Homo sapiens: one gene and its partners. The protein of the gene in region 2 purifies or fractionates together with the protein of the main gene of each other region. This does not show direct contact. Each region holds a gene or a part of one and is shown on either strand. Other genes may lie near its edges.

Evidence for each region.
Region 1: the proteins of SHISAL1 (region 2) and KCNN4 purify together in Homo sapiens (affinity purification with mass spectrometry; one large-scale study listed by BioGRID and IntAct). This does not show direct contact.
Region 3: the proteins of SHISAL1 (region 2) and EDEM3 purify together in Homo sapiens (affinity purification with mass spectrometry; one large-scale study listed by BioGRID and IntAct). This does not show direct contact.
Region 4: the proteins of SHISAL1 (region 2) and SAMD8 purify together in Homo sapiens (affinity purification with mass spectrometry; one large-scale study listed by BioGRID and IntAct). This does not show direct contact.
Region 5: the proteins of SHISAL1 (region 2) and PTDSS2 purify together in Homo sapiens (affinity purification with mass spectrometry; one large-scale study listed by BioGRID and IntAct). This does not show direct contact.
Region 6: the proteins of SHISAL1 (region 2) and SLCO4A1 purify together in Homo sapiens (affinity purification with mass spectrometry; one large-scale study listed by BioGRID and IntAct). This does not show direct contact.
Region 7: the proteins of SHISAL1 (region 2) and ABHD12 purify together in Homo sapiens (affinity purification with mass spectrometry; one large-scale study listed by BioGRID and IntAct). This does not show direct contact.

Annotation. Positions count from the first base shown.
Region 1 is NC_000019.10:43,774,474-43,777,973, forward strand, and holds part of KCNN4 (intermediate conductance calcium-activated potassium channel protein 4), read right to left. Parts: intron 2,164-3,500; coding exon 2,068-2,163; intron 147-2,067; coding exon 1-146. UniProt on the Homo sapiens protein: Intermediate conductance calcium-activated potassium channel that mediates the voltage-independent transmembrane transfer of potassium across the cell membrane through a constitutive interaction with calmodulin which binds the intracellular calcium allowing its opening.
Region 2 is NC_000022.11:44,243,165-44,246,951, reverse strand, and holds the end of SHISAL1 (protein shisa-like-1 precursor), read left to right. Parts: 3' UTR 1-3,287; downstream 3,288-3,787.
Region 3 is NC_000001.11:184,716,859-184,720,358, reverse strand, and holds part of EDEM3 (ER degradation-enhancing alpha-mannosidase-like protein 3 isoform 2 precursor), read left to right. Parts: intron 1-790; coding exon 791-916; intron 917-1,113; coding exon 1,114-1,197; intron 1,198-2,735; coding exon 2,736-2,819; intron 2,820-3,346; coding exon 3,347-3,471; intron 3,472-3,500. UniProt on the Homo sapiens protein: Involved in endoplasmic reticulum-associated degradation (ERAD). Accelerates the glycoprotein ERAD by proteasomes, by catalyzing mannose trimming from Man8GlcNAc2 to Man7GlcNAc2 in the N-glycans.
Region 4 is NC_000010.11:75,110,470-75,114,455, forward strand, and holds the start of SAMD8 (sphingomyelin synthase-related protein 1), read left to right. Parts: upstream 1-1,186; 5' UTR 1,187-1,253; exon of another isoform or gene 1,254-1,309; intron 1,310-3,986. UniProt on the Homo sapiens protein: Synthesizes sphingolipids through transfer of a phosphatidyl head group from a glycerophospholipid on to the primary hydroxyl of a ceramide in the lumen of the endoplasmic reticulum.
Region 5 is NC_000011.10:470,779-474,278, forward strand, and holds part of PTDSS2 (phosphatidylserine synthase 2), read left to right. Parts: intron 1-3,116; coding exon 3,117-3,199; intron 3,200-3,500. UniProt on the Homo sapiens protein: Catalyzes a base-exchange reaction in which the polar head group of phosphatidylethanolamine (PE) or phosphatidylcholine (PC) is replaced by L-serine. Catalyzes the conversion of phosphatatidylethanolamine and does not act on phosphatidylcholine.
Region 6 is NC_000020.11:62,645,503-62,649,002, reverse strand, and holds part of SLCO4A1 (solute carrier organic anion transporter family member 4A1), read right to left. Parts: intron 43-3,500; exon of another isoform or gene 1-42. UniProt on the Homo sapiens protein: Organic anion antiporter with apparent broad substrate specificity.
Region 7 is NC_000020.11:25,299,714-25,303,835, reverse strand, and holds the end of ABHD12 (lysophosphatidylserine lipase ABHD12), read left to right. Parts: intron 1-207; coding exon 208-286; coding exon of another isoform or gene 287-538; exon of another isoform or gene 539-1,489; coding exon 1,490-1,617; intron 1,618-2,457; coding exon of another isoform or gene 2,458-2,479; exon of another isoform or gene 2,480-2,504; intron 2,505-2,951; coding exon 2,952-2,991; 3' UTR 2,992-3,622; downstream 3,623-4,122.

The DNA of each region.
Region 1 (3,500 bases), on a different chromosome or scaffold from region 2:
GGCGCCCCTAAATCCTGCACGCACGGCGGGCCCCGCACGGGCGCCGGGTGCAGCCCACACACCACCAGCTCCAGCACGATCTGCGCCGCCTGCCGCCCGGTCAGCGCCACGCGCCAGTCCCGCAGCCCGTTGTCGGTCATGAACAGCTGCCGGTAGGGGGCCAAGAAGGGAGGGGTCAGGAGCAGGTCAGGCGCAGGTCAGGCGGCGGCCCGCGCCTGCCTGCGCCCTGAGATAAGTGGGGTGTGCCGCCTGGCCAGGAGGGAGGGAGTGCAGGGCGGGAGAGGGATAGGGAGGGAGCGGGACAGGACTTGAGGAAGACATCTTTCCACTTTTTCCTCCTTCCCCACCACCCACCCCACTAGTTTCAGCCCACTTCCAGCCTTTGAACACTGACTGAGCGCCGACTGTGTGCCTGACATTGTTCTATGTGCTAAGGATACACAGTGAACCCAACAGACCCCCCTGCCTCCCTAGAGCTTGCATTCCACATGCCTGGAGCTCGCTCCTACTCCCCTTTCGGTTGACACGCGTAATAACTGTAATAATAATATCAGCAATAACAAAGCCATGGGCCGGGCGCGATGGCTTACGCCTGTAATCCCAGCACTTTGGGAGGCTGCGGTGGGTGGATCACTTGAGGTCAAGAGTTTGAGACAAGCCTGGCCAACATGGTGAAACTCCATCTCTACTGAAAAATACAAAAATAAGCCGGGCATGGTGGCGCACACCTATAGTCCCAGCTTCTGGGGAGTCTGAGGTAGGAGAATCACTTGAACCCAGGAGGCAGAGGTTGCAGTGAGCTGAGGTCATGCCACTGCACTCTAGCCTGGGTGACAGAGCGAGACTCCATCTCAAAATAAACAAAACAATAACAATAACAAAATCAGCATGTACTGGGCACCGTGGATACGCCAGGTACTGCTCTATCCCGTTTACATATTGTGACTTAGTAAATGCCCACAACCCAGTGAGATTGATATTATTATTGCCCCCATTTTATAGATGTGGAAGCTGAGGCCCAGGTCCCTTCCATGGGCAATGGCGCACTGGGCTACAGGCTACTTAGCTACTCTATGATAAGATGATAATGTGCACTGTTTACTGAGCACCTCTTATGTGCCAGGCACTGCTCATAGAATTGCCACACATGGCCAATAATCCCCATTTTACATGCAAAGTTATGATAGGAGAGGGGGAAGAGGGGAAAGGGAATGGAGCAACAGGATCTGGGGCAATGGGACAATAGGGGATGGGATGTGTCTGGGTGAGACCCAAGGTGGGGTATGGATGGGGAGAGCTCCTGGGTCTGGGGCAAGAGGGAGGTTATTGGCACAGAGATAGGGTGATTAGGAGTGGGCACCCCTGGGACCGGACCAGGTGCAGTGGCTCAAGCCCGTAATCCTAGCACTTTGGGAGGACAAGGTGGGCAGACTGCTTGAGCTCAGTAGTTGGAGACCAGCCTGGACAACATAGTGAAACCCCGTTTCTACTAAAATACAAAAAAATTAGCTGGGCGTGGTGGCATCTGCCTGTAGTCACAGCTACTTGGGAGGCTGAGGCATGAGAATTGTTTGAACCCAGGAGGTGGAGGTTGCAGTGAGCAGAGATCGTGCCACTCCACTCTAGCCTGGGCAACAGAGCAAGACCTTGTCTCAAAAAAAAAAAAAAAAAAAAAAAAAAAAAGGAGTGGGCAGCCCTAGGACCTTAGGTTGCTTGAGGACTGGATTGGGGATGCCATGTCGGAGCACAGAGATCTGGGAAGCTGAGTGCCTGGGAGCAGAGTGGACAGAGGCCTGGGGGCGGAAGCAGGGCTGCAAGGGCACTCTCAGCATCCGTGAGTGTGCAAGGGGGGGCTGGGGACTACAGGGGAAGGCGGAGCTGGTGGGGGAGGCTCTGCCTGTCTGCTCATGGTTCATCCCATCTGGGTAGGTGAGGGTGTGGACGCAGCACCTAGGGCAGAAGAACTTCATTACTCAGATCAGGAGGAGGAGGAGGGTGGAAAGTGTGAGCTGACAGGGCGCTGAGGGGGTTGGAGGGAGCAAGGCTTAGGGGCGGGGCCTGCCCTACCTGGACCTCTTTGGCATGAAAGGCCACGATGAGGCAGAGGAGTAAGAAGGTGGAAATGCTGATCGTGCATTTAACCAGGAACAGGTAGAGCGCCCACTGTCAGGGGGGACGGAAAAAGCGGTGTGAGATCCCAGGTCTCCCTCCGCCTGGCCCTCCACCTTTCCTTCAAAACCACCATTTTTTTTTTTTGATTCCCAATTTTCCTAGCCTCCTTCCCCTGCAAATCAGTCCCTCTTGATGTGTCGGTTCTGGAGAAGTCTCAAAACCATCATCTGGGCCCAGTGCGGTGGCTCACACCTGTAATCCCAACACTCTGGGAGGCTGAGGCAGGTGGATCACCGAAGGTCGGGAGTTTGAGACCCCCTGGCCAACATGGTGAAACCCAGTCTCTACTAAAAAAACAAAAAATTAGCTGGGTGTGTAATCCCAGCTACTTGGGAGGCTGAGGAACCAGAATCTTGAACCCAGGAGGTGGAAGTTGCAGTGAGCTGAGAGATCGCGCCACTGCACTCCAGCCTGGGCAACAGAGCGAGTCTCCGTCTCGAAACAAGCAAGCAAGCAAACAAACAAACAAAAAAACACCATCATCTGGTCCCCAGGAATGCTCTCTTTCTCCCCAACAGGACAACCCTGTCCAGATGCTGGTGTCTACCCTCTTCCTCAGCTCTTCTCCCAAGACCCATACCCATGAAGGGGGACCTTGAAACTCACATTCCTTCTTATTCCTGTCCCATTTCACATCAAAAATAGTTCTTCAGGTGTGTGTGTGTGTGTGTGTGTGTGTGGGTGTGTGTGTGTGGTGTCTAGAAAAAGACATCTAGCCTCTAGAGAGTGCCCCCTCCCCTTCCCTTCCTACCCACCTGGTGTTGTCCTAGAAACCAACTTCAATCAACCCCAACCCCAGATCTGGAAGAATGTAGAAACTACCATTCAATCCTCAAAGACTGAGTCACACCCTTCTCTGCTCTCATCCGGAGGGCTGAGTCCCTGAGACCCAGCCTCAGCTCTGAGACAGCCCCCTCGGTTCTGCCCCCCTGCAGCTCCCCACTGCCACCCCTCTCTTCTGGCTCTAAGCCCAGGGCAGATCTGGCCGGAAGCACAGGGCCTCCAGAAACCACGGAGAAATTGTTCCTTTTTTTTTTTTTCCTCTCTTTGTGTGGCACAACCTTGGAGGAATCTAGAATTCTGGAGAGAGGGATTTAGAGGGGACTGGGACTGTTGGATTTCCTAAGAGGGGTTGGTCCCTGCCTGGCGGGTATTTGCAGGGGGAGGGGACCACCTGGGCGTCCTTACAAAGCATTGCACCTGTTTCTCCTAAGAGGGCTGCCAGCTCCCCTGGCTGGGCCAGCATCCCGCCTCTGAGCAGGGGAAGAGGGCCAGTTTCCTGCCCCAGGGGCCTGCTCCCCAACCCCCTATCAGAACAATAGTGCTGT
Region 2 (3,787 bases):
CTGCCAAGTCCCTCTTGGGCAGCTGGGCTGAGGACTGGAACATTCTGTGGCAAGCAGGAGGCCTCAGCAGAGATCACCAAGACCCAGCACACCTGGTGCAGACAGCCACGGCATCCTCCTTCCTGCAGGTCACCCCCACGAGCCACTTAACCTCTCAGAGCCTCTGCTTCTCACCTGTCAAGTGTGTGAGGTAGGGTACCAGTTAGTCACGGTACTTGCTGTCTCACAGAGGAGCCGACAGGTGAGAACAGTGTGCATGTGGGTGTGAACACTCAGTGTGGAAAGCAGGTGTGTGTGTATTCAATCCCCCAATGGTGTCAAGGGCTCCTCAAAATGCCATGGGTCCCCAGGTCATTGTGATAAACACTGTCCCCATCCTGCTGTGGTTGTGGCTGGAAGGTCCCTCAAGGAGTAGACTGTCCCTGAGAACAAGATGGATGCAGGGTAGTGACGAGTTCAAGCATAGCTAGAGTTACTGTTTTTTAGCAACTCAACCTGATTTTTTAAGCTGCCTACTTTTACTTTTTACTGTGAGCTTCTGTCCATCACCATGTAATTTGTAATAATAATAATACAAAAAGAAAAACGAGAGAGAGAAGAGGACAAGATGTCCACAGAGGAATCTGCATTCGAGGCTGTTTGCAGAACTACCGCGTTTGTAAGGACTGTTTCCCACTGGGAACTGTGTGTAATTAATGAGCAGTTTTATGCTTTCCCTCTCGTCTGTGTACGGTGTGATTGTTGTGTGTTTCAGAATCTCTATTCAGAACCAATAGCTGGTAATGCCTGCTGGCTCGCTGCCCTCAAGTTAGCCTCTGAACGTGCCCTGCACCTAGAGAAGCAGCCTTCTCACCCGCCTCACCTGGCTGCTCCAGCGGCCAGGCCAGCCACCTGACCATGACCATTGCTGATGTGCAACAGGCCTTAATTGAAAAAACACACAAGTACATACATGCACATGCGCGCACACACACAGGTGATTTCACAGGTAGATCTGGTCCCTCTTGCTGTCTCCAATGCTCTAGAAAGCAGCAAGTAGGCAGCTGACAGTGTTCCCAGGGTGAGTGGCATCTCCCCTCATCATCAGAAAGATTCAGTCAAATTTTGGCCCAGAGCTGAAGAGGAGGACTTGGGAATGTCAGGGAAAACATGACAGGGCTAGGGGTTAACAGGCTTCTTTGGCCAGGAGATGGTTTCCAGTTCACCGTCAACCCAAAAGCTCTCTTCAGGTCATGGCAAACAGACCAGGGCTGTGGGTGTGGCTGTGCTTGGCACTGACTCCCCCACAGGCCGCTGTCCAGGTTGGCTCAGGATTCCAGCTGCCATCCCCAGGCAGGCCCCTCCGCTGGCTCGGCTGCTTTCACAATCACCATGTCTGTCTATTAGAGACTGTGCCATTCAAGGAGACGGGGTCCCCGGGGGTGCAGACTTGTAAAATTTTTTAATTTTTCAACTTGGCTGAACTGGTCCCCATCAACAGGAAAAGCCTTCGGAAGTGAATTTACAGATTTCTCCCATGTTTGAAATTAACATAACATGAACCCAGAAGGCAGAGCTTGCAGTGAGCTGAGATCGCACCAGTGCACTCCAGCCTGGGCAACAGAGTGAGACTCTGTCTAGGTAGGTAGGTAAGAAGGAAGGAAGGAAGAACAGACCTGGATGGAGTTATTGGGAACATGTCTTATCAATGTTGAAGGGCCCCCTATCACTGTAGGGAGACATCCACGTGGGTTGTTTTCGTCTGCTGTGAAAATCTAGGGTTGGAATCATGGAAGCAAACTGCAGGAATTCTTAATCATCCTGCTCACGTGGTGGGCATCAGAGGGTGTCTGCTTGGCCCCCACAGCACTGGGACAGTCAGAGAGGCCATGAGTGGATGACGCCCTGATCACTGCCCTTTGCAGTCCAGGAATACCTCACTGGGCTGGGGCCATACCCTGTGCCCTCTGGAAGACAAGCCTGCGCACTTACTATGTGCCAGATGCCATGCACAGTGCCCTAGTTCCTTGCTGTAGCACCAACACGTCCCACGCTGGTGCTTAAATGCACGCAAACAACTTTGGTGGTTGTGGCCCGAAAAGCTCAAATGTTAAAGTTAAGCAGTCAGGCAAGCTAGAAGAGGTGAGGAGCCTCCTAGAAAACTCATTCGATGACACGCGCTTCCCTCACCTATTCAGATACTTGCCGAGTGCCTGCCACTTGCCTGGCCCTGTACCCAGGGCCCATCTGGGAGCCATTCCTGCTATAGCTGGGACCACTTGTGAAACGGCTAGTTGTGCCTAACAGACATGCTCAGATTCACAAAATGAATTCAGAACACTTACCTGTCCCACCCGTGAAAGTGACCTTGGAGGTGTCATTGCCCCCCACCACCCCAGTTTCTAGTCCAAGCCAACAGCTGGTGCTAGATAGATGCTTGATGAATGAGCAGATTTGACTGTTAGTTACTCTGTACCTAAAACTCCTATCTTTACATCAAAGCCCTGACAGATTTGCCCTTGACAGACTGAAATCCGGGGCTGCTGCAGGGTTCACCTCCAGGAGGCACCATTCACGACACTGTCCCATAAATGGTAATGGGCTCCCAGGGATACTGTTTACATAGACTGCACTGAGAACGGTGACCCTTAGGTTTGTACAATGAGGTACCCTGTTGAATGACCCTAAACCAGCCTCCAAAATGTGCAGGATCCCACATTGGTCAGCGCCAACCCTGAGCACAGGATCTAAAACTATAGATGATATGGCCACCCTGGCCACAGCTGGAACCAAGCTGGTGGCCCAAGAGAGAGCCTCTTCTTGGAATTGCATGTCAGTTTCTCATACGCAGTTTCTTCCTATTTTTCCCATTTCCCGTTTTAAAGCTAGTGGCATACCTCACAGTCAAATAACCAAGTGGTCAGTGTCTCGACAATGTGCAGTAACGAGGTGGGGGCTGCAAGGGTGAGGGGCTCAGTCACCTTAACAAGGCAGGAGACCTCCCACAAAAGGCTGATGTGTCGTCCCCAGGGCCAGCTGGACAAGGGCATGCAGCGCAGGGGTAGGGGGATGGAAATATTTTCTCTCCCGTAAACTCTGACTTCATGTGAGCAGGCATGGGGTCTCCCTGAGAGCTGATAACCGGGAAAACCAAAACCAATAATATTCCTAATAATAATACTAGAATGTAAGAATAATCATGTGTTTTTCACTGACCGCTGTTGCTCTGCTTTTGTCTTTATATACAGTAGTTTTTATAACAATGTCCCTAGGTTTTAATAAAGGAGTGTCATGTCAACTGTTCCCTAGATTGACGTTTGCTTCAGTGTTTCAAAATGAGCTCAAGGGAACCTGTGCCCGCATAATTTGTCACTCTTTTGGGGCGGGTGGAGGACCAGGGGCTGGGGTCCCAGCCAACGTGGTGTTAGGGGGAGCTGGACACACGAGTCCATCCTGAACACTCAATGCCAATGGCAGGTGGACGCCACCTCCAAAGGGGCAGGGGCAAGGTCAGAGAGGAGTGACAGAGCCCTGAATCTGGCACTAGCACCCAACAAGACAGAGCTGAAAGCACGTGGAGGGTGGGGGGGGCGGGCATCACTGCAGATGGCATGCCATCCGTGGCCCCTGGTGTGACATGCCAGGTGCCTCTTGTTTGTCATCTCATTGGCGAGGGGACAGAGTAAGCTCCTTTAACGAGCACTGTGCTCCTGAAAAGCTACCATCCCTCACACTGGGACCGTGTGTCCTTCACGCTGGACACAGAGTCAATTCTGGCCCCACCTGCCAGCAGGAGGAGTGAGGATGC
Region 3 (3,500 bases), on a different chromosome or scaffold from region 2:
GCATTCAAAGTGATTAGAGCAGTGCCTTTAACCTATGGCCAATATTCAATAATAGTGATTAAATAATAGGTAAATTTGCAAAAAAAAAATTAGTAAAAGTTAATAAGTCATTAATTGAATACTTTCTAAAATTATCACATAGATTGTTTATTAGATTATAACAAGAATTTCTTGAGGTAAATGGGGACAAATAACTATTTTTGTTGGCTTGTTATCACAACTCAACCTTTTGTCAAAGCTGAGAAATATCTAGGAGAAGAAGACAAAAGAAGGGAAAAAGAGTTTTCTAAGACCATAATAAGCTGAGATAGCAAACCATAAGAGTGGCAGCAGTGATTAGCTGCATTAGTTTAGATAGTAGTGAGCACCAAAATATTGTTAGCCGAGAAGGGATCAAACTTCCAAGATACAGGAAAAAGCAAATTCTGTAATACAGAAGCTGATAGCTATATTACAAGGGGACCTATGAGCATCAGTGGGCCGCAAAGTCATACCAACCACGGGCTAACGCCACAGGGCATAGAGATGTTCAGTTCCATTTTTCTCAGAAGGTCCTATATTACAGATAGTCTTTAATAGTCTGCATGTGAGTTAGAGGACATAAAGGAGTACATATATATTTTAGAAAGATCTCCATCTAAAATAACTTAAATATTTATATAAATTGGTAGTTATTTAGTGAATTTATATATAAATTCTAGTTTAATTTATTCACAGTGCTATTTAATGTGTTTAGAGTAGTACCTCTTTTTTCATCTAACTTTCATGAACACATGTTGTGATCTTTTAGCACTATGATGCCATAATGAGGTATATTAGCCAGCCACCTCTTCTACTTGATGTGCATATCCACAAACCAATGCTGAATGCTCGGACTTGGATGGATGCTTTGCTTGCCTTCTTCCCAGGCTTGCAGGTATAAAGAATTCTGTCTTCTTAATATGAATGTAAGATGATGATGTTAATTAGGCGCATTTTTGATCTTTAAAACTGAACTACAAAACATAGTTGCAGTTCAGAATTGTATTTGTATACATTTTTCTGTTTATGTAATGATTAGAGATAAAATCAGCTCATATTTTATTAGGTAATTTTATTGTTGTTGATTTCTAGGTGTTAAAGGGGGATATTAGACCTGCTATTGAAACTCATGAAATGTTATATCAGGTGATTAAAAAACACAATTTTCTACCAGAGGTAAGCAAATAATTTTTGGAATAATCTTACACACACACAAACACACACACACACACACGTACACATATACACTATAAGTTGCTAATATAAAGGTAGAAAATGTCATCTTCAAGGCTTGTTGGTTCTTTTTATTTTTTTCCTATTAAATAGTTTATTTTTGGTTTGTACAGTATTATATATGTTTTTGCTTTTCTTTGTGTGTTAAGAGAAGTCTGATTTAGGGTAATGCTGACATTTTTAAAATTTTATGTAAAAAAATTCCCAGCTTAGTTCTTCTCAACTCTTCCTAACTTATGCCATTGTAATATTCTCTCATTCTAACTCTTGTATGTACCTACCAGCTAGGGAGATTTTGTCACTTTTTATTTTCTAAAGCTTGTCTTATGAAAACAGTATATATTAGATATACTTTTGTTGTTCACACATGCCCTCTGGAAATGTATAGAATGCCATCTCTTCCTCATGCTGATTGAGAATTATTCTTCCTGATTTTTATACATCATATTAGTAATAAATATTCTTGCTAGCTTAATATGACAAGATTTTAATAGCATACTTTTTGGCTTCCCAGAAATGTACCGTTAAAAATTTCCAAATGTGTGTATGGCCTTGTTCTATCCCCGCTTATTGACTACCCTCTGTGAGATATCTAAGCATTCTACCAACTTAGAAGGGTTCCTAAAGTGTTTGTTTTGGAAAGTATAGTTTTATTAGCCTTCGGGTGAGTAGGACTGTGCATTGTAGAAAATTCATATCCATACAGAATAAACTGAGGTTTCAATTAATACATCTATCACAAATGAAATTTTTATTTAGCTCCCATAAAAGTTTTTGTTTGCTTTTATTTTTATTTTCTTTTAAAAACCAATTGATTATGTTATTGAATAAATTTCAAATAGACTAATTTTATTTATTTCTAAATAATGCTCTGTCTTATTCCACAAAGGATTTGAGGCTTTTAGAAAATATAAGCTAAAATATGAAATATGTATGCTTACACATTGCTAAGAGAGATTTTAAGTATTCTCACCACAAAAAAAGAGAACTATGTGAGATAATGCATATGTTAATTAGCTTGATTTAGCCATTTCATAGTGTATAAATATATCAAAACATCATGTCATATACCATAAATATATGTCACTTTTATTTGTCGATTTAAAAAATTTAAAAATAAATATGAGAACTAGGAGAGTAATAATCCAGAGGAAAAAGTAGAGGGAAGGATAAAAAGAAAACACAATTATGTTTACCACCAGGACCCATGTAGTGGCATTGCTGAGTTTCATTATGGAGTTTTTCTGAGTTTTCTAATAGCCAGAATGATCACTGAAAAAATAATCAATTTAATTGGTAAAAATAGCAGCCTTTGCAAAATGAATTGTTATTTTAAGCAATGAAAATTGATGTTTTATTGATGAAAATGTCCTGATTGCTATTTTAATTGCTTTTACCTATTTATATATATTCTATATATTCTGGAACTACTTGTGTATTTAATCACATTTTTTATGCCTTTTGTATGTTGTTTTGTTCAGGCATTTACCACAGATTTCAGAGTACACTGGGCTCAACATCCTTTAAGGCCAGAATTTGCAGAAAGTACCTACTTCTTATATAAAGTAAGAAAATATACCCCATTTTACTTAAAGTTTAGCCTCCATTCTCTGTTGGATCTCTCATTCTTTCATAATAGTAATTGGGTTTTCAGAGTCCCCTTTTAATATTATAATGATTGGATATATCATGATTCTTATTCATCTAGTCCATAGAATTATTGAATGATGCAAGAATTGACATGCAAGGTTTTTTTCTTTAAAAAATATTATGTAAACATTTCTTTAAAGAGAAATTTTATGTTCTAGAGCTGCTTTCTAAAGCATGTCTCTTGCCTTTCTTCAGGCAGCCTTTCTGAGCATTAGAAATTTAAAAACTAAGGTTATATAGTTAAATTTTATAATTGTGTATTTAAGAAATTCTGTAAAGCAGATTCATAGCTTTTTTTCAGAACTCAGTTCTATATAATGTCCTTCAGTGCCTGATACAGTGCCTGGCACCTAGTAGGTACTCAATAAATATTTGGTAAATGAATGGATATGTGGTAATATATAAGCTATATATATTATACATATATTCTCCTTTTTAATAGGCTACAGGAGATCCTTACTACCTTGAAGTAGGGAAGACACTTATTGAAAATTTAAATAAATATGCTAGAGTGCCTTGCGGATTTGCTGCCATGAAGGATGTTCGTACTGGAAGTCATGAGGACAGGTAAAACAATTGCTAACATCCTCTTTCCT
Region 4 (3,986 bases), on a different chromosome or scaffold from region 2:
CCTTAAGACCAGTTTGAAGGGAAAGGCCACACCAGGGCATCCCATGGAAGCAGTCTACACTCATGTCTATCCCATTCAGAACCATTGAAGTCGGCCCGGCACTGTGTGGGGAGGCAAGACCAAGGAGGGGCTCGTGTCCAGGTTACAGCTGGGTTTGGACTTGGTTTATGCCAATGCTAGACCTGGCTTGGGAGGAGACCTTCCCTCAGGGTGGTGCAGCATGGTGGAGTGAGGAAAATACAGGATCTGATGTTAGAGAGATTTGGGTTGGAATATCAGTTTGCAATATGTCAGGCAGTATGTTTCTTTACTTTTCTGTGCTATAGGATCCCCCTTGCAGAATTAGCACTAGGATTTTTTTTTTGAGATGGAGTTTGCTCTTGTCGCCCAGGCTGGAGTGCCATGGCGTGATCTCGGCTCATTGCAACCTCCATTTCCCGGGTTCAAGCGATTCTCCTGCCTCAGCCTCCCGAGTAGCTGGGATTACAGGTATGCACCACCACGCCCGGCTAATTTTTGTATTTTTAGTACAGACGAGGTTTCCCCATGCTGGCCAGGCTGGTCTCGAACTCCTGACCTCAGGTGATCCCGCCTCAGCCTCCCAAAGTGCTGGGATTACAGACGTGAGCCTCCGCTCCCGGCCTTAGCACAAGGATTAAATGAGATGTTTATATGGCGTTTGGCATAGACACTGTCAAAGAGTAAATGGGCAATAAATTATAACAATGATCATTGGGGGCTGGCTATTGGAGAAGAGCTGGCTCTCTCCAGAGGAATTCGGATTACCTCCTTCTAGGCCCTAACCCCATTTACTGATCCCACAGGCCCCGCCCCGGCTCCGCTAGCCCCGCTTCCTCCTGTCGCTTTGGCCTCCGGCATGACGCATGCGCCCTCGGGCTCCTCCGCGGCAGCATCTCGGTTCTCCTCTCGGGCCCATCTGGAGCCTCGCGTCTTTTCCAGTGTGGGCCCCGCCCCCTGCCGGTAGAACCCCGTCCCCGGCCGGTAGGGCCCCGCCTCCCGAAGCAGTTCCGGTTCGGCTCCGAGCAGCTGCCGGCGCGGCGGTGACGGCGGCCGGGACGATGCCTGCGCGCAGTCGCCACCGCCCCCGCCTCCACTCCGGCTCCCCGCCCCGGGCTCCGCCCCCGCCGCTTGAGGCGCTTCACTCCGGCGAGGCGGGGAGGGCCCCGGACTCCGACGGCGGCTCGGACGCCGACTCGGAGGTGGGTCCGGGGAGCCCGACTCGGACCGCGGAGGTGAGCGGGAGCTGAGGCTGAGGAGAGGGGAGCTTGGGGGGCGCCTGCTGCCAAGGGTGAGTGGGGAGTCTGGGATGGAGCCGGGGGCTGCCGAGGGACCGCGACCTGGAGGGGCCCCGGGGAGACGGTTGAGGGAACCGGGATAGTCAGCTCTGGAATGGAATCTGAAGCAAATGGAGGTTGTCGAACTGAGGGCCTGAAGGCTGAGGGATAAGTGGAGGCCGAGGAACGAGAGGGAGAGAGCGAGAGGGGGAGGCTTGAAGAGCCCAGAGCTTGGGGGCTTTTGAAAGCTGCGCAGTGGGGGAAAAAGATCGAAGGTCCTGCGGGAATGTGGACCCGGAAGAAGAGATGCTCTGGGTTTGGCAGCGGGGATGAGGAGTCAGAGGAGCAAGACCTGGGCCGGTGTTCCCTTCCCAGGGCGAGGGAGGGCGATCGGGGCTGGGACTGGAGCCCTCTCATGGGGTTCTCCTCTTACGGAGCCCTCTTATCCGCCTCCCACCCCGGGTGGGGCTGGTGGTGATGGAGGGCAGGATTTAGGTTTGACTAGAAGGAGGAGGGCTGTTGGATGGGAAATCGTCTGGCCTCAAGGGGTGAGGGAGGCACTGAAAAAGAGAAGTGTGGTCAAGAAAGAAAAGGAGCCCTTGGGGATCTAATTTTGGGCTTTGGCATTTTTACAGGTGCCTTTTAAAACATCAAAGATCACTAGGGCAATGTACTTGGATCGTGGGGCTTTCTCGTTCGTGCACAGTGGATCATTTTAAGAATCTTGGGTGGAAGGGGCGGTGTGAATCACTGATTTGCCTAAAGGACTGGGGGAAGTAGTGGAGAGGAAGTGATGTTTGAAGAAGGTAGTGGAAGACGTGATTCTGAAAATGAAGATATCATTTGGATTTATTGACAGTAATGGTGTCCTTTTTTTCATTGTAATTTTTTCGTAGCTAAGTTTAAATACCAGACATGTTAAGATCCTAAAAATTTACTATATTACCTTTAAGTTTTAAAAACTTGAAACAAGACTTTGGATACTCAGATTTTAAAAATTAAACTTGAAACAAGAATTTGGACACTTGGATTTTACAGATACTCAACATGGACTGGTTCCACTTTCAAAGTTTTAAGTTGACACATGTATTTGCCACATAGTAAATGTATGGTCAATGCAAGTTTCTGGGTGAAGGGGGCACAGTGAACTTGCCACAGTCTAGGCGCAATACCAAATCTTCCTCTCACTGATAACCCCAGGATTGGACTTATCTCTTGAAAATTGGAGAGGTACCTTTGACTGATTGGCAAAACCAATATTGAAATACTATTTTGCAGGTATTGTGTGAATAGTATTTTTAGTAGAGTGATTTGGAAAAATAAGGACAGAGGATGCTTGTAGTTGGCAGCCAACACAACTGGGACAGGTGGGTATACAGATGCTTTTTATAGAAGACATAGTTCCAAAACATAATTATGCCAGAAAAAGAATGATTGCAATATTTATATTCACTTTAGTAGAGATAAATTGACTTCCTTTTGTGATTGTTAAGTCATAACATGGTTCCATGAAGTCTTTGACTTTAGCCACATGTCTCATATGTTTTACAACTTTTTATGTGATTATAGGTTTGTAAAGTTGTTGGCCATTTCTTTTCTCTTCCTTCTTTTCTTTTCTTTCCTTTCTTTTTTTTTTTTGAGACAGAGATTCGCTGTGTTGCCCAGGCTTAAGTGATCCTCCCACCTCAGCCTCCCAAGTAGCTGGGAGTAGCTGGGACTGCAGGTGGGCGCCACCATGGCTGGCTAATTTTTGTTAGCATCAAGCGTTTTCTAAATGCTTGATTAAATCTAAATGGATATCTACTGTTTAATCTTCATGAGATGATAATTTGATTTGCAACAGCTTTTAAATTAGTTTATGTGTATGGGCTATGTGACATACCCTCAGATGCACAGTGGAATAGTAATTGTTTCTTCAAAGGATATGTGAATTCTTAGCTAAAAATGCTGAGATTGTTAAAGTATTAATTCCCTTTTCTTTAACTTAATACAAATTATCTTCAGTTGAAGTTTATGTAATATTACTGTTTGTTGGTTTTATCTTTAGAGTGAGATCCTCTGGAGACCTTATCTTCATACTTAGTTGTGAATAAAAGTCATGGCATGTAAAAATTTGCTGAACTGCAATATAAGAACTCTATTAAGATTACAGCTTAATGTTATTGCAAAATTAAAGAGAAACTGTTAGATGGAGTTGTACAATTAACATATTAGCATGTCTAATAGTTTTTTAATTTTTGTTTCCCTTTGTCAGTTCTCACACCCATTGAATAAAGAAAATCAGTTTTTGGCTAGGTGTGGTGGCTTACTCCTGTAATCCCACCACTTTAGGAGGCCGAAGCAGGCAGATCACTTGAGGTCAGGAGTTCAAGACCAGCTTGGCCAACATGGCAAAACCCCATCTCTACTAATACTATAAAAAGAATTAATCAGGTGTGGTGGCTCACACCTGTAATCCCAGCTACTCAGGAGGCTGAGGCAGGAGAATCTCTTGAACCCGGGAAGCAGAGGTTGTGAGCTGAGATCACACCACTGCACTCCAGCCTGGGCAACAGAGTGATATGTCTCAAAAAAAAAAAAAAAATCGGTTTCTCTAAGGCAGAAGAAGCCATCATGACTGCGATGGCAGAATATGCAGACATATTTAGGTAAATCAGTTTTGATTTCAGTACCATAACCCCCCTTCTGCAA
Region 5 (3,500 bases), on a different chromosome or scaffold from region 2:
GGGGTTTCACCATGTTGGTCAGGCTGGTCTCGAACTCCTGACCTTGTGATCCGCCTGCCTCAGCCTCCCAAAGTGCTGGGATTACAGGCGTGAGCCACCGCACCCAGCCAGCACCGGCTTATTAATGGTGAGATGTTAATGGGAAAACTGGGCCTGTGAGATATGGGAGCTTTTACTATTTTTACAATAATTCTGTAAATCTAAAACCATTCTAAAATTAAAAATTTATTTTTAAAATGCAATATATTTGTTTTCCTTTTAAAGCACTTCCCTCATTCTTACCCAACGGGACACACCTTCTCAAGTACTTAAGTAATTCTTTTTTTTTTTTTTTTTTGAGACTGAGTCTTGCTGTCACCCAGGCTGGAGTGCAGTGGCGCGATCTCAGCTCACTGCAACCTCTACCTCCCAGATTCAAGTGATTCTCCTACTTCAGCCTCCCGAGTAGCTGGGATTACAGGCGTCTGCCACCACACCTGGCTAATTTCTTATATTTTTAGTAGAGACAGGAGTTTCATGTCGGCCAGGCTGGTCTCGAACTCCTGACCTTTAATGATCCACCTACCTCAGCCTCCCAAAGTGCTAAGATTACAGGTGTGAACCACTGTGCCCGGCAAGTAATTCTTATGAACAAATTAGCCTTATAAAGTTGTCATAAACATTATGTGATGTGTGGCCAGGTTAGAGTCCTGTGTGACCCGGTCTGAGCTGGCCTCTGGGCAGCATGCCGTGTGGGGGCTGCCACAAGCTGATTCAGGGAGCACCGGCCTGGGGTGACGCACGCCTGTCGGGCGGAGGGCGGCCTGGGGTGACACGGATGGTGGCCTGGGATGACACGCGCCTGTCAGGCGGAGGGCGGCCTGGGGTGACACGCACCTGTCTGGTGGATGGCGGCCTGGGGTGACGCGCGCCTGTCGGGCGGATGGTGGCCTGGGGTGACGTGGATGGCGGCCTGGGGTGACGCAGATGGTGGCCTGGGGTGACGCGGATGGCGGCCTGGGGTGACGCAGATGGTGGCCTGGGGTGACGTGGATGGCGGCCTGGGGTGACGCGGATGGTGGCCTGGGGTGACGCGGATGGTGGCCTGGGGTGACGCGCACCTGTCTGGTGGATGGCGGCCTGGGGTGACGCGCACCTGTCGGGCAGATGGTGGCCTGGGGTGACGTGGATGGCGGCCTGGGGTGATGCAGATGGCGGCCTGGGGTGACGCGGATGGCGGCCTGGGGTGACGCGGATGGCGGCCTGGGGTGATGCGCGCCTGTCGGGCGGATGGTGGCCTGGGGTAACGCGGATGGCGGCCTGGGGTGACACAGATGGTAGCCTGGGGTGACGCGGATGGCGGCCTGGGGTGACGTGCGCCTGCACCGGGAGCAGCTTCCCTTGGCCAGTGCCCATGTTCCTCTTTTCATTTTTATCTTTTCTGGGGAGGGTAGGGGGACGTTTTACTGTCTTTCCACTGAATGTTATGACCCTCCCCACGCCCCTTGGAGGCACAGCTGAGGTGGGGCCTATGTCTGGCTCCAGGGGGCCCTGAAAGGTACTTTTTACACCTCCCACCCCTCAGCACTGAGAGACCTCGGGAGGGGTACCGGTGACAGGGACGCGGGCCCCACCTTGCTGAACCCAGCAGCGAGGGCATCTCTGCCTCTGTCCCTGGAGGCTGACAGCGGTAGTGTGGGAGCTGGGGCCTGGGTGGAGACCGGGTCAGAAACTCAGGTTTCGCCTGGGTGGGCCATGAATGTCCTGCCGAGGGTGAGACCCTCAGGGCTCTGGGTGGAGAGCAGCACCTGCCCAGAAGCAGTAGACCCTTGTCCCGGCTGCACCAGGGGCCAGCGACCTTGTGCCCTCCTCCATCCTGCAAGCCTCGGGCGGTGCTTGGCCTCACCTGCCTCTGTCTACTCAGGACTTTGAGGCCAGGCACTCCTGCAGGCAGAGAGGGGAATTTCTGAGACTGAAGTTGTTACTGGGTATTTTTTAACAGCGCTGTCTTAAAAAATAGATAGCGTGTCTCTGTGGCCCCGTCTATTCTTGCGGCCACACGAACGTGCGTGTGTGTGTGCAGCTTCCCTCACGGCAGCCAAAACCCAGAGGCCGCCCAGCGTGCGAACACGCCAAGGTGTGACTGTCGGCACGGCACTGCCGAGCCGTGGGAGGGACTGGGTGGTGCAGCGGCCAGTGGATCTCAGACCCTGAGCTGAGCACGACTGGAGAGGATGGGTGCATCCGAGCGTCTGCAGAGCACAGAGCGCGTCCGCAGAGCGGGTCCACACCTTGGGTGCAGCGAGCGGATGTGAGCAGTGTGCCTGTGACCAGGGCTGTCTGCACATCCGCCGGCCTAAGCTGCTGCTCACCGAAACCCACTGGGACTCTGGCTGAGGCCGGCCCCAAGGAGCTTTGCCGAGGAGGGAGCACCTTGCCCCTGCCCAGAGCGGTCCCTCGCATCCTCCTTCCCGTGAACCTGCATCTTTGGTTGCAGTTACAGCTCTCACGCTTCCATCTTATGAATCACAGGAGTCCCGTTGGTTTTGGATGAGTTGACACCAAAAAGACACAGGAGCTCTCTAGAGACACTTCCTGGGGGTCCTGCCGCGTTGGAGCAGGGAGGCAGTAGCTCCTGACGCCTTCCCTCCTACGTGGGCTTTGTGATCACTGATGGTCACATGCGGGGCATTCGGTGGCCTCTGTGTAGAGCCAGTGTCTTCCTGATGTGACACTGGGAACCACCAGCAGCCCAAGCACAGGGACCTTCTCCTGGCCACTGGGCGGGCTGCAAATGTGAGGGCGAATGTTGGGTGCAGGGTGGTGGAGGTAGCTGGGCCTTCCCTGCCGCGGAGGAGGCAAATGTGAGCGCGAATGTCCAGCCCAGGGTGGTGGAGGTAGCTGGGCCTTCCCTGCCGCGGAGGCGGCAAATGTGAGGGCGAATGTCCGGCCCAGGGTGGTGGAGGTAGCTGGGCTTTCCCCGCGGCGGAGTCGCCCAGCTCTGCCCGAGGCCCCTTCCTCCCGCCCCAGCATCAGGGGCTGTTCCACAATGGGTGTCTGGGGGTCCCTGCAGCCTCCCACCTCCCTCCTGGGAGAAGCCTGCACACACTGAGGGGCTGTTTGTTCTTTATTTGCAGAGGTATTGTGGCCAGTATTTTGGTTTTCTTATGTTTTGGAGTCACACAAGCTAAAGACGGGCCATTTTCCAGACCTCATCCAGGTAACTTGCCATTTCCTTTTCCGTGTGCCCCTGTGGCATTTCTGTTCTGAGCGGCCACTCTGTGTCTGTGCTGCTGGGTGTGAGTGTCCTGTCCTCCCCTCCGCCTGGCCCCTCCCCGAGGCCTCCGAGGCCACTTCCCACATGGACAAGGGCGTGGGGTTCTGAGCTGGCCGTGTGCTCCTCCTCCAACCACCGAGGGTCTCTCCAGGCCTTCTCTGGCCCTTTCACTCTTCCCTGTCCAGGGCTCTCCAGCCCTTCTCTTCCTGCTTCTGCCTCCTCTTTCCACAGACCAGAGTGGCCG
Region 6 (3,500 bases), on a different chromosome or scaffold from region 2:
TTCTCTGGATAACTCAGACTAATACAAGCCAGTCCTTCCATACTTTGGTACCGACTTCCTAACGCCTGCTATGTGGGAAACCTGGGCTTCAGGGACTCCCAGGACACTGTCGCACCCACGAGGAGCCCAGGGGCGGTCACTCGAGAGCTGGGTGCAAAAGCTGCCCATGGCTGCGAATCAGAACCGCCTGGCCGGTGGGGACAAGAGGCCCGGAGCCTGGAGTGAATTCCAGTCATCAGCCAAGGCCCTGGGAGCCAGGCTTAGGGAGGAGGCTCTGACAGCACACCACCACCATCGCTGCCCAGGAACCTTCTGGAGGCCTGAACCAGCTGAGCTCTCCTGTGCACACACAGTTACTGAAATCTGCCCCATCACGGGAGGAGGGTCCATCACCTCCATGGAGTAGGGTCCTCTCCCATGGCCTTGTACTCCTGACGGCTGCTCCAGAATGAGGGACAAGGTCTCCCCTGGGGCTCCGGCCACACGGCTCCCATGCAGCCGGCAGGTGGGAAGGAGCCCCTGGAAGCAGAGCCTGCCCATGTGCCCAGGCCCGGAGCCCTGACTGGTGGCCCCGCCCGTGAGCCACTTCAGGCCCCCTGTGGCTGCCCCGCCCCAGGGCACCCACTCACCTCTCGGCCCATCCTTTCCCCACTGCCCTGATGCCTCTGTCCATGGGAGAACATCTGAGGCGGAGCCTTAGGTGGCTCTCAGCCCGAGAGAAACGCAAACCACCCCGCCCCTCCGGTGCATCTAGAGAGCCAGCTGCCCTTTCCCTGGGAGCTTAGCCCCCTCAGGCCCTGTCCCTGCTCTAACCCACAACAACCCCGCAGGGGAGGAAGGGGGGATGTTGCTGCCAGAGGCCTTGGCAGCCAGGGTGTGAATTAGGCCAAGGCGATCAGCCGGGGGATAATGTGTCCCTGGAGCCTCCGGCTGGGGGCAGGCCTGGGGAGGGTGTATGCGTGCGTGTGCGCCTGTGTATGGGTCAGTGCCCGCTATTTTAGGAGGAGGCCATGGGGGCCAGAGTTCTCTTCCGATTTCCTCATGCTGGCCTGGTCAGTCAGCTGCATCTCCGGGATAGGAGGCCCTGACTCCTCTGCTAGGGTCTTTTAGAGGCGAATCCGGCTGACCTCTTCCTCCCCCTCCTCTCAAGCCAGGACAGTGACCTGGGAGGAGCTAGTGGCCACGTGCGGGTGGCTGGCACAGCCCAGACTGTGGGAACTGGGGTGCCAGCCTGTATCCCCGTGTGTGGGCAGCTGACACAGCCCGGCCTGTGCCACTTCTAGAAGCCCACCTACTTCCCTAGGCCCCATGCACTTACTTCCCAGCCTGGCTCCCTGCAAAGCGCTCTCAGCGCAGTGCGTGGAAAGGACGCAGGATCTCTGAGAAAACTATTTTAAGCTTGCCAGCCCCTGGGCCTGGCCTGGCTGACCTACTGTGGCCCAGCAAATGTCCCCAGGGAGGCCTGGAGCTGGGCTGGGTGGGTAGCACCCCTCCACATTAGGGGATGTCCCAGTCCCGGCTTCCAGGCCCCACTCAGAATTTGGAGGCCAGGCAGGACCATAGGGTCTCAGTTCTCCTTTCTCTTCAGATTCCAGCCCAGGCACTGCCTGGCAAAGCCGAGTCCCTCCTCCTGGCACCTGACGGCTCTGAGGCTGCCAGCCACAGCCACATGCCTGCCCTGCACCCAGCCCCGCCCTGAGCACCTGCCTGCTCCCCACACCATCTTCAGCTGCCTCCCCTGCCACACCAGCCCCCCAAGACACCTGGGACTCTCTCCTCTATCTCCAAATTCACTCCAGGGTCTCTTCCTCAAGCTGGATGAATGAATGAAAGGAGCTTTCACTTCTTTAGCTTGAGGCACAGACTCTGGGATCAGCATATGGGGGCCTCAGCTGTGCCTGGTACACCCCAATTTGCATACCTGGTGACCTCGCACAGGCGAGCAGGCAGGAAGCCATTGCTTTGTATGGGGCCGACAATGAAGGATTGTCTGAGCAAGAGGGAGCCAGGGTGCGGCAGCAGGGCCAGCCCAGAAGGACCTGTCCCTCAACCTGCTTGCACCCAGTCTCCACCCACTGAACCTGGGAGCGTGGGGAGGACGGGTGAAGCCACGGGTGTGTGCAGGTTTACTCTTCCTTCCGACTCATCATCCCATCCATGGAACTGAAAACTCTCCTGCCATTCAAGGGCATGTTTGAGAAGAAGACGGAGGCTGGCTCCAAGCCACGCAGGTCACGGGCCTCTCTCTGCCTCAGTTTCCACCCATAACAGAGACATCATGAGAATGAGAATGAGCCACTGAGCGTCCTACTCAAAGTGGGCCCAGTCAGCACTGGAGTTCATGGGAAACAGACTCAGAATGGAAATCCACCCTGTCCGGCCCCGGAGCCCTGCAGGCCCTGCCTGCCGCAGGTCCCCACTGCTGCCCTGGCCTCCTCAGCCTCCTTCCATGGCTGGGGTGGAAGTGGCTTGCCCTGCCCATGCTCAGGACCCCCGCTGTGCCTCGGCTACTGGTGAGTGAAGGCGTAAGTGATGCCACAACTCATGTTTTCCTGCATGTGGGGGGACCCCTTTACAGACCCGTGGTGTTCACAGCTCTCTTTGTCCTCTGGGGAAGAGGAAAGGACCTCCCCAGTTCTCAGGCTAGTCCTTGGGCACAGGGCCTGCTTCCCAGCCTGCTGTGCAGAGCAGCCAGGGCTCTGGGACTCCTGAGGGTGAAGGTGAGGAGGCAGGGGATGCCCAGGACCTCCCTCCTCCAGGAGAGCCCTGTGCACCACAGGAGGCAGGGCGGGTGGTGGGAGGGAAGGGCGGGCAGCTCAGAGGTCCGCCAGCAAAGGGGCTCAAACCTGACCCCCAATGTGTGGGAGAGACAAGACCCAGAAGGGCCCTCGGGGAGCTTGAGAGGCTGCAGGGAGCAGGTTCTGTCCAGATGAGGAACCTGCCTGGCACAGCTGGGCCACTCTCCTCCCAGGTGGCCTCCTAGGCCCATGGGTCCAAATCTCAGGTCCACAGCGCCTCCCGAAAGGCAGAGTCCAGTGGCAAATGCAAGGGCCCCAAGTGAGCCTGGGGCAGACTGGACGACACACGCCACCCAAAGCATCGCAAGCTCTCCCTGCGGCTTGGGCCAGAGGGGCAATGCCTCAGGTGCCCCCCAAGGCTTGCCAGATTAGAAAAACCACCAAGAAAAGGCAAGGTCCGTGGGCAGGAAGGGCCTGGCTGCGCGTGGGAGGGAGAGGAATCTGGGCTCTCTGGCACCCAAAAGCGACCCCAGCCACTGGTGCCAAGTCTCACCCTACGCTTGGGCTACGTGGGGAGCGGCTTCTGCAGAAGGCACGTGGTTTGAAAAAGCAGTCACCTTCCGCCAGAAATGTAGTCCCAGGGTCTAATTCTGTGTGATGCTGGTGGGAAGGAGGCTACTGAAAAGAACTGAAGGGTTGGAGACAGCCGGAGACCCCAGTGTCTGAGGACTGAGGGTGAGGCTGCGGGTGAGGATGAGGGTG
Region 7 (4,122 bases), on a different chromosome or scaffold from region 2:
CTGTGATTGACACCTGTCATCTAGCTGTAATAGATGTTCATAGAGATAATGAAGAGTTAACTTTCAGTTGTCTAGTAAAAAGAAATCCAGCAGAAATCAGGCTGTTTCCCAAAACACACCCTGAACCCAGATCCCTGCCATGGACAGAGGGTCTGGGCAACTCTGCCCTTTCCCTGGTCTTGGTCTAGCCCCTTCTCCCTCCTACAGCGTGAAGCACATCTCCTGTCCCCTGCTCATCCTGCACGCTGAGGACGACCCGGTGGTGCCCTTCCAGCTTGGCAGAAAGGTGGGTCCTGGCCTCTGCCTCTGGTGTAGCTGGCATCTTGCACACTCAGCCAGTGTGGGTGGACCAGGCTGGGAGTGGGCAGGCGGGAAGGCAGCCCCTGCATGCTGCATCACGGGCTGCGCACCAGCCACGTCAGGCTCAGGAGGCCACCTCATCCTCCCTGCGTCACCTCCAGGCTGCTTCGGAAGGACATGGGAGGTCTGGTGTAAAGGTTGGGGCAGGGGCCCACTGATGCTGTCTCCAAGAATATGAAAAATAAGCAGATAGTTCCCAGTCCTCACACAGGGGTTATCAGAGTGGGCTGCCTATGTTATCAGAGCCCAGGCCAACCTGGGAACTCAGCTGGAAGGGCTCATCAGTTATGGGCTGAAGGCAAAGAACCCCTTGATGAGGATCTCCCAAGCCCATTGCAGGGGTCACAGTCAAAATTGATAGAGAAACTTCTAGCCTGTTTCCTTGCCTTTGGAATTGCGCTGATACCAGAACCAGACCATGCTGTCTGTGGGGCCTCAGTGTTTGCTTTTGCTGAATTTGCTTTGACTGTCAGCAAGTTGGATTGGATTTGTGGCTCAGAGTAGGGTAAGAGAAGGCAGCCTGGGTCTTGGTAATGGCAGGGCAAACTAGTTGGGTGTGTGCAGGCCTCGTCCACGGATTCAGCCCAGGGCTGGGAGCACTTCCTGCTCTGACAGCCCCCATGCAGTCAGGCTCCATAAGGCACACAGATGACGGAGCCACACAGGGCAGGGGCAGAATGCAGAGCCGCCCAGCAGCGCACAGCTCAGGCCCACCTACCCTTGCCGAAATGAGAGGGGGAGGGGGCTGAGATGGGTACATCAAGCCCATCTTAGCTAAGCCTGAGGCACATACCTTTTGTCCCAGCTCCCCAAGACTGTGCCATCCCTGCCATCAGAGCCTCCCAGGCACCTGGTCTGGCTCATCCACCTAGCCACTCCCCAGAGGAAGGGTAGTCTATAAGGTGTGAGGACAGTATCTTGAGTGGTGTGTGCCCAGGAGCCAAGCCTGGGGCCTGGCTCCTCCCAGCCCACCCCCGGGCCTCCTGGTCGTGACCGGCTGTGGCAACAAGCAGTGTATGTGGGACTCTGGACTGGTTTCTATTGAAGGGGAGGCTGCCAAGCTGGTGTTCCTCAGGCTGGGACCCCCATGCCAGGCCACTGCCTCAGGCTCTGACCCCTCTCTCCCCAGCTCTATAGCATCGCCGCACCAGCTCGAAGCTTCCGAGATTTCAAAGTTCAGTTTGTGCCCTTTCATTCAGACCTTGGCTACAGGCACAAATACATTTACAAGAGCCCTGAGCTGCCACGGATACTGAGGTGAGACATTCTCTTCCCACCCAGGGGCTTCGTCTGGGCAGCACTGGCTCACACCTAACGTGCAGCAGGTGGCAGCTGCTGAAGCTGCTCAGGGGGCCTCAGTGGGGCCAAGAGTCACAGTGATTTGGGAGCCTTCCATTTCCTTGGCAGAGGGGTTTGAGGGAGTGCCTCTCTCCTGCTCCAGGACTGTTCACATGATCATGCAGGGTGAGCCGCCTCCATGTTGTAAAGGATGTACAGACCCACACGGGGGGGCACACACGCTCACAGGTGGCCATGTTTGGGAACACTCAGACACAGACACCCCAGCCACTTGCAGGCCTCGGATCTCTTCCACACACCTCTCAAGACGTACACAGCTCCTCAAAAGCCTCTTTGTCCCCAGCTGCTTCTTGAAGGGACGTGGTGCTCCTGACTGCCCTGCACTGGCAGGACATGGGCGCCAGCCCAGAGAGCCATGAGTACCCACCTGGGCCTGAGTGCAGAGCCCAAGCCTGAGGGTGAGGCCTTGGCAGTAGTGACAAGGGCAGTGTGTGGAATGGACCAACCCCCGGCCTCCTCTGTACTGCCCTGGGCCCTATGCAGGTTGCTGCCCAGACTCGCCTACCTGCCTGTCAGAGGACACAGGCCCCCACCCCACTGCCTGGCTGTGTGGCCTTGGGCAAGATGCTAACCCTCCCTGTGCATGGGACAAGGCTTCTGAGCCGAGGAGGGCATGTGGTACTTCGACCCTAAGCACTGGACCCACGGAGGGGCTGCTGCTAATGGTGATAGAGTTTTTTGTTGTGTTGTGCCAGTCAGCTCCAAAAAGTAGGTCAAGGTGCCAGTTTCTCCCTGCAGGGGACTGAAATTGGTGGCCTGAATTGCCTCCCAGTGCTGTATATCCCGTGAGTAATTCTACTGCAAACTTCTGCTTTTCTCCAGTTGCCTTTGGAAGTTCCAGAGGCAAAACTGTGTCCCTTTAGCACAGGTACCTGGGTTGCTAAGGGGGCAGTGGGCTCAGAGTATGGGTTTGCTTTGCGGTTATAATTTTCCCCATTATAAAAGGAAGATATGTGTAGAAAATTTAGACCAGAGAATAGCTCTGAAGTTGAGGGTCAAGAATCAGAGACCTTGTCTCCATGCCTGTGTGTTGGGCTTTGACTTGGCACCACACTGCTTGTTCCCTGCCTAACTCACTGAGTGCTGCTCTGGGCTACAGCGCATCCTCATGGGGCTCTTGGCTGCCTCCTCTCTGCACAGCCTCTGCTTCCTTAGATAGCAGTGTGAGGACTGTGGAGAAGGATCTTTGGTCTGAGCTCAAATGATTGGCTCCTGATTGTCCTGTGGTCTAGGGAATTCCTGGGGAAGTCGGAGCCTGAGCACCAGCACTGAGCCTGGCCGTGGGAAGGAAGCATGAAGACCTCTGCCCTCCTCCCGTTTTCCTCCAGTCAGCAGCCCGGTATCCTGAAGCCCCGGGGGGCCGGCACCTGCAATGCTCAGGAGCCCAGCTCGCACCTGGAGAGCACCTCAGATCCCAGGCGGGGAGGCCCCTGCAGGCCTGCAGTGCCCGGAGGCCTGAGCATGGCTGTGTGGAAAGCGTGGGTGGCAGGCATGTGGCTCTCCTTGCCGCCCCTCAACCTGAGATCTTGTTGGGAGACTTAATGGCAGCAGGCAGCCATCACTGCCTGCTTGATGCTGCACTGAGCTGGACAGGGGGAGTCCGGGCAGGGGACTCTTGGGGCTCGGGACCATGCTGAGCTTTTTGGCACCACCCACAGAGAACGTGGGGTCCAGGTTCTTTCTGCACCTTCCCAGCACATGCAGAATGACTCCAGTGGTTCCATCGTCCCCTCCTGCCCTGTGTACCTGCTTGCCTTTCTCAGCTGCCCCACCTCCCCTGGGCTGGCCCACTCACCCACAGTGGAAGTGCCCGGGATCTGCACTTCCTCCCCTTTCACCTACCTGTACACCTAACCTGGCCTTAGACTGAGCTTTATTTAAGAATAAAATCGTGGTGGTGGTCCTTTTGTCTCTCTGCAGCGCGAGAAGGGTCAATGTTGCCTCCTCCATGCCCCAGAGCCGCCCACAGCCTAGCCTCTAGCCGCTTTGGAGCCACTCCATGACTCAGCCTCAGACTATGAAATTTTCTAGTCCCAGCAGCTCAGAAATTTGCCAGGAGTAGGAAGTTTTGTTCACCTGCTCGCCCCTTTCTCCAAGTTGCAGTCCCAGCATCAGCAGCTGTGGGCTGGCAGGGAGCCCAGAGGTCCTCGCGGTTACACTCCTTCACTGGGGTACCCTGAGCTACCTATAGCGGTTCTCAGATCTACAAAACACTTTTCCTACGCAGGGGAGCAGCTGAGTAGACATTACTTCTGAGGTCAGTTCATGAGAACACTGGTCCCCCTCCTGGCCAGGGTGTGCCCCAGCTCCTGGTCCCTAATTAGGGTGTCATTTCTGTTCCACCCACCCACGGCCCCAGAGACACCACCTGCCCCAGGGTTGGGATCTCCTTGCATGGCCATC